2 linked regions of the Homo sapiens genome follow. The protein of the gene in region 1 purifies or fractionates together with the protein of each later gene. This does not show direct contact. Each region holds a gene or a part of one and is shown in the gene's direction. Other genes may lie near its edges. The genes, in order: AKR1D1 and PLXDC2.

What was found.
Region 2: the proteins of AKR1D1 (region 1) and PLXDC2 purify together in Homo sapiens (affinity purification with mass spectrometry; 2 studies listed by BioGRID and IntAct, with this or other methods). This does not show direct contact.

Annotation. Positions count from the first base shown.
Region 1 is NC_000007.14:138,082,820-138,086,645, forward strand, and holds part of AKR1D1 (aldo-keto reductase family 1 member D1), read left to right. Parts: intron 1-3,826.
Region 2 is NC_000010.11:20,284,781-20,288,606, forward strand, and holds part of PLXDC2 (plexin domain-containing protein 2 isoform 1 precursor), read left to right. Parts: 3' UTR 1-3,826. UniProt on the Homo sapiens protein: May play a role in tumor angiogenesis.

The DNA of each region.
Region 1 (3,826 bases):
GTTGTGTACTGCAGAATTTCCTTCTTTTTTGAGGCTGAATAATATTACATTGTCTATGTACCACATTTTCTTTACCTGCTCATCTGTCAGTGAACATTTAGGTTGTTTCCATATCTTAGCTATTGTGAATAATGCTACAGTGAACATGGAAGTGCAAATATTTCCTCAAGATAGTGATTTTATTTCCTTTGGATATATACCCTGAAGTAGGATTGCTGGATCATATGGTAGTTCTATTTTTAATTGTTTTTCTTGACCAACATGTTCTAATATATCTTTAATTTTTTTAGGAACCTCCATACTGTTTTCCACAGTAGCTGCACCATTTTACATTTTCACCAACAGTGTACAAGAGTTCTAATTTCTCTACATCCTCACCAATAATTGTTACCTTTCAGTTTTTTGATAATAGTCATCCTAATGGGTGTGAGGTGTTATTTCATTGTAGTTTTGATTTGCATTTCCCAGATGAATAGTGATATTGATATTTATATACCTATTGGCCATTTGTATGTCTTCTTTGGAGAAATGTCTACTCAAGTCCTTTGTCAACTTTTTAATCAGGTTAGGTTTTTCTTTGGGGTTTTTTGTTTTGTTTTGTTTTGTTTGTTTTTGCTTCTTTGCTATTGAGTTGTAGAAGTTCCTTTTAATTATATCTTGGATATTAACCCCTTGTGAGATATACGGTTTGCAAATATTTTCTTCTATTCCATAAGTTGCCTTTTAACTCTGTTGAGTGTTTCCTTTTCTGTGCAGAGGCTTTTTAGCTTGATGTAGTACCAACAACCTATTTTTGCTTTTGTTTCTTATGCTTTTGGTGTCATATCCAAGAAATCATCACCTATCCCAATGTCATGATGCTTTTTCCCTTATGTTTCCTTCTAGGAGCTTTACAGTTTCTGGTCTTAAAAATCTTTAATCCATTTTGAGTTGACTTTTTGTGTATGGTGTAAGATACAGGTCCAATTTCACTCTGATGACAGTTCCAATATTAGGATCTATGGTTCTGTTTAGGCTCTCAGTTGTTTCTACCAGTCTTCCTTTATGGAACTTTGTTTTCTGGGGTACCTGAATTCTTCAGCTGTGTGCAGGTTAATACTACTTTTAAAAAAGTATTTGTGAGCGAGCATCAAGGGTGAAAAACAAGTATTTTCTTTCAGACAACATTTGTGTGTGTTTGCTCCAGGTTCCCTGGAGGCATTGCTACCCAGTGACGATGTGAAACTGGTCAGCAGACTCCGGCTACATAGGTTATGAATTCTCCCAGGGACTGGAGGTGGCCATAGCCTGTTAGGGAGTTTTTTTACTTTCCTTTTTCATCTCCTACACCTCTCATTTCTGCATTCAGACTTTCCCATAAAATGTAGTTTGAATTAATAAATGCCTACTGTCTTTTCAGTACTTTTATGGTAATCTTTTCAAAAGTTTTAATCTAGCTTTTTTTTTTTTTTTTCTTTTTTTGAGACAGGGTCTTGCTCCAACACCCAGGCTGAAGCGCAGTGGCATGATTACGGCTCCCTGCAAATTCTGCCTCCCAGGCTCAAGCGAGTCACCAGACCCGGCTAATTTCTGTATTTTTTATAGAGATGGGGTTTTGCCATGTTGCCCAGGCTGTTCTCAAACTCCTGGGCTCAAGCGATCCTCCTACCTCAGCCTCCCAAAGCGCTGGGATTACAGGTGTGTGCCACTGCGCCAGCATAATCCAGCATTTTTAATTTTCTTAAGTAGAAGGAGATGCTGTCAGCCATTTTAGGAAACCAGATTTTTTGTTTTACTGTTCAGTGAGATTGTCTTTAATTGTGGAATCAAATTTTTATATTTTAGATTCTCCTATCATATCATTTATGTGGTATCCTATTTGATCTTTCCGATTTTTTTCAAAACTGGTTTTCCTAAAAAATGTGTCACAATTTATGTAGAATTTTTTTGTGCCACATTTAAGAATTACAAAGTGTGGGCCGGGTGCAGTGGCTCACGCCTGTAATCCCAACACTTTGGGAGGCTGAGGCGGGCAGATCACAAGGTCAAGAGATCGAGACCATCCTGGCCAACATGGTGAAACCCCGTCTCTACTGAAAATACAAAAATTAGCTGGGCTTGGTGGCACACACCTGCAGTCCCAGCTGCTCGGAAGGCTGAGGTAGGAGAATCGCTTGAACCCGGGAGGCAGAGGTAGCAGTGAGCTGAGATCATGCCACTGCACTCCAGCCTGGTGACAGAGTGAGACTCCGTCTCAAAAAAAAAAAAAAAAAAAAAAGAATTACAAAGTGTGGTCCTCATGTCCACAGTCCCAACTAGTTCCTCCATACTGATGAGAATTAAGTACAAAATAGTAATACATCTCACTGCTGCTTCTGCCTTCTGAGGGACAATATTTTTCAGCAAGTATATAAATATAAACATATAAATAAATAAGTAAATAGTAGATATCCAGTAAGTAAATATCCAGCTTTTAGAAGAGACTCCCTGGTGATAGCTGAATAATTGAAGATTTTCACTACTATAACTTGCTTCTGTGCCATAATCCTTATTAAATGAGTCATCATCCAAATATACAGCACCATGGTGGACTACACTCCTACCTTAGCCCTTGCCTTTGCCACTTTCTTTCTTTTTCTTTTCTTTCCTTTTTTTTTTTTTTTTGAGACAGAGTCTTGCTCTGTCACTCAGGCTGGAGTGCAGTGGCATGATCTCAGCTCACTGCAACCTCTGCCTCCCAGGTTCAAGAGATTCCCCTGCCTCAGCCTCCCAAGTAGCTGGGATTACAGGTGTCTACCACCACGCCTGGCTACATTTTGTATTTTTTAGTAGAAATGGGGTTTCACCATGTTGGCCAGGCTGGTCTTGAACTCCTGACCTCAGGTGATCTGCCCCGCCTGGGCCTCCGAAAGTGCTGGGATTACAGGTGTGAGCCACCATCCCCAGCTGTACTTTCTTTATCCTAAATGCTCTCCTCTGTACTTCATTTTTTGGGTTAATCTTCAAAAATACAAGCACCTACTTTAATACGCATTTGTCTGGGGCTCCCTTCATTGTGTACTTTAGCTCTTCATTTAAATGATCAGTTCCAGCCCATAAAATCTCAGTGATGTTTCTGAGATTCTATTTACCATCTAGTATTAAGCTTCATATATTAATAATATGTAGAGGGAGGCCAAGGCAGGAGGATCACTTGAGCCCAAGAGTTTGAGACCAGCATGGGCAACATGGCAAAACCCCATCTCTACAAAAATGTATGCCAGGCATGGTGGCACACGCCTGTAGTCCCACTTACTCGGGAGGCTGAGGTGGAAGAATCACTTGAATCTGGGAAGCCGAGGCTGCAGTGAGCCATAATCGTGCCATTGCACTCCAGCCTGGGTGACGGAGACCCTGTCTCTAATAATAATAATGATAATAATGTAGATACTTGAGAATGAAAGTAGATGTTTATTTTCTTCCCTGTAAATTTCTGGACACCACGCCTCACCTCCCCTTCCCACTGTACTTTGGTTGTCACACTTGTCATTCATAACATCTCATTTTACAGGCTTTTTTCTGGCCTTTTGACTCAATTACTGTCCAAGTCCTATTAATCATGTTGTTATTTAATTAACCAAACAAATATTTCTAATGTTGCTGAAATGTGTGTCTCCTTTTCCCAGCTATTTGATATTTGTGACTATGAATCTTATAATATCATCTATGTAGCCAGTTTGTTCATTTTTCGTATCCTCTTATCTTCTCTATAGTGATGACTTCCAACTGTAGCAGGGGGAAAAAATACAATATATGTCCCCAAGGCTTTCTATATCCTGCCCAGGACTATAAAATCACTAGAAATACA
Region 2 (3,826 bases), on another chromosome or scaffold:
AGACAGCGCAGTCCACTCAACGGTAACTTTATTTGCTATATTGACAATCTGCTCTGTTCTGTAATATAGAACATTGGATCAATCTTTATCTTTTTGCTGACTTAAGGAGGCTGCTATTGTTGCAATATCCAGAGATTTCAAGTTCTAGCCATTGCGGGGTCTTTGTGGTGTTTTCAATTTCTCCTCTCTCCACCCCTGCCCCCATCTGTGGCCATCTAAGTTAGCAATACAATTTATTTTGGCCATTTAAAATTTTTCTGCCTTTGTTTTATTTCTTCCCAAATATATTTGAAAATGAATGATCTATATAGCTGATTTTCTGACCACATATATAATTGCAATTTTTATTTGCTCTTCAAACTATTACAACATTTTTGTCCTTATAAGGTTTTTTGGGCAGATAATGCGAGGTCTGTGGTGTTACCTTTTATATACTCCTATTACCTTATGTTTGTGAAGCATTTTACATTTTACAGAGCACTTTGATTCATCTCCCTATTTGTTCATTTATTTAACTGTTCAGTTCACTGAAATATTTATTGAACACCTACTGGAACCAAGTGACTGTGCTAGTAACTTGTGATATACAGTAGTGAGAGTCCAGGCATGTAACCGATCATTATAATACAATAACATCCCTAAACCAGACTTTACAAGTAGATAGGATCAACAATACTCTATCAATTTTCAACTCCAATTTTCTATTCTACTTAAAATGGGAACTAGAAACTGTTTGCCTGAAGAATGTGTCTGAAACATAATATATCACTGCATGTCTGTGCTGTAGACCTGTTAATTTTATCTGTGAGAAAAAAAGTTACTCAAAATTCTCCCTGACCTAAGAATACTTTCTAGTTCACTGCAGTCTTACTGACCAGATGCAACAGTTGAAGTTTGATTTCTCGACCCAATATTTCTATTGGGTTTTGAATTATTAATATCACTGTTTTGAGGTATTCAGAAACACCAGTGTATCAAAAAAGCATTTGCACTTTAGGTGTGTGTGGTGGTTATGTCATTTATTAGACCATCCCAGACATAAGACAATCAGGGAAATCAGAAAACTCCAGCCTCAAATGTGTCTATAATTTCCTGTTCTACCATTGTCATATCATAACATGGTATTACTTCTTAAGGTTTTGATTAAGTTGATCTAGCCTCAACTTAAATTGTAATACATCTGCCTAATTATTGTCTGGAATAACTTTTCAACCATCCAATGCCCACTGCTCTCACAATGATTATTGTAGAGAAGTAAAATGGTAATTATTCAAGTAAAGTCACATAATTTCTGGAGTCAGTTTTTCATAACAAGTTTATGGAATACATCATCATTGGCTTCTTCATAATATATTTATTATGAGTGACCAAATTTTGCCTGGAGGAGCAAAATGCTCAAAACTTGTTATTATAGGTTAATTTCCAGCTCACTGTTGACACTGAAAGATTCTGTGTTACTTTAAACCCAGGATAAAAGGCTGGAAAAAAAATTAAATGTAAGTCATAAACTAGTACTCAGCTTTTCCTAGTTTCTAAGGCTTATTAACATTTGCAAATTACTCAATAAATGTCTTTCATAATGGAATAACATAAAAGCTTTTGATTTGGCAGATAGTGATATTTTATTTATTTTCATTCTGGTTGAAAAAAATCTCAGTGGCTTCTCTTCATTCCACGAGAATTTTGATTTTTAACAGCAGTCTCTCTTTTTCTCAGCATTGCAAATATATATGTATATATACATTCATGACCAAAGTATCGCTTACTGACCATGCAGCTGTAAACCTTCTGTGCCTATCAAACAAATACATAGCATGAAACTAATTTTAGAAGTTTCATGGGGGAATTTTAGGGGAAAGTATAAACCTAAGAGTGAGTGAATGGAGATGATTCATGGAAAAAAAAATAAAAATCTAAATGTGCTATTAGGCAGAGTTATTAACTTCTTTTAGTTGTTGTTTGAGATGGGGTTTTGCTCTTGTTACCCAGGCTGGAGTGCAATGGCGTGATCTCGTCTCACTGCAACCTCCGCCTCCCAGGTTCAAGCGATTCTCCTGCCTCAGCCGCCCAAGTAGCTGGGATTACAGGCATATGCCACTACAGCCGGCTAATTTTGTATTTTTAGTAGAGACGGGGTTTCTCCATGCTGGTCAGGCTGGTCCCCAGCTCCCGACCTCAGGTGATCCGCCCACCTCCGCCTCCCAAAGTGCTGGAATTACAGGCCTGAGCCACCGTGCCTGGCCGAGTTATTAACTTCTTAAGAGCAATGTGCTAATAAATACTCATTGATGACCAGCTCAAATTTAGGTCATTCAGACATCCAGACACTGGGGCACATATTCTGCAAGCAATGCTGAGACCCCTGACATAGAGAAAGCAAAGGATATGCCTATGATTAGTCTAAAATGCAGCCATCACCCCCCATACCTCTTCTATGGCATTCATCCTAACATCATGGAGGCCTTTGTCCTAGAGAATTATGTGACTTGCCCTAGAGAATTAGTGAATGACCAAAAAGAGACTTTCCATTTATCTTCCTTTGACTTAAAAGGCATGAAAATAAGGCAAAAAAATCAATAAAATAATTTTCCTGAGGAAAGGTTAAGAGATGGCACTTTCCTTTCCGGGCCCAGAGCTGGATTTCTCTGAGATTTGACCATCTCAGGACTCAGACAGACTCCAGTGCTATTTTCTGGACATTTGTGGTGAAGCCTCAGCCACCATGTTCAAGGTGGTTTGAATGAAAACATACTCAGATTGTCACATTTATAGCAGGGAAATAAAAACTCAAATTAGGCATCCTGCAGCAGGCTACTCTGAAAATAACATTAGGCAACATCAGAGCTTCACTTGCAAAGAAATGTTAAAATCATTTTAGGGAAATCAGTGAAGTCTCTTTAGAAACAGACATCTTGTGTATGGCGTAACCCAGTCTTGGGGCCCTCACGGAGAAGAGGGGGAAGTCTTTTCATTGATTGGTCAAAACAAATCTCTCATTTGCCTGATTTGAAGCATTTCAACAGTGCCTGGAGAGTACATTATTTTCAGGGGAAAAAAAGGAGAGAGTCTTTTTTATATGCCAGCTGGGATCATGGGAACTTCGAATGCCAGGAATTTACTACTGTTTCTGGTAATTCTGTGTGTAGTCATTTGAAATGTTGAAGTGTGAAAAGAGAAGAAATTGGGCACTTCTTGCGGCGGGGGAGGGGGGGGGGGCGGTGGCTTTCCAGATTTTATGCCAGTTGCACCAGCATGCAGAATATTTGTAATGCATTTCAAAGTGGATATAATGGCACCCTTTGTCAGAATCACAAAGCTCACTGCGGCACTGCTACAAGAGGACACTGAGGAAAATCTGGCCCTATGAACCTAGTCAACCCCAAGCAAAAAGAATGACTATGTGTGTGAGTGCAGCACATGGCCAGTTCGTTTCTCACTGTTTTGGAAAGCCCTGTGTGCCAAACCAAGGACGTGTCTTTCAGGGAAAGGTTAATTTTCCGAAGTTTATTAAAATAGAACTTGGAAAACCAAGCATTTTGAATTTATTCCAGTCCTCTGGGCATCATTCCTATTTCTTCTGCCATGTCAAGGAGAAATTCCAAGCCTGCATTCTGTCATGCTAAAATAACCAGCCCATACTTCTCGGTGACCTTCTGTTGAACGTACCTGAGCCTGCAAATGTAAAAATGATTGTATCTGAATCTGCACTAATGGTGTCTGAGAGCAAAAAGAGTGTGACCTCTATTGGAAACCTTTGTTCAAATTCAATAATTCAGAGATGCTACATACTTCTGCAAGCTTCCTGATTATGTTCACTGTAATATTA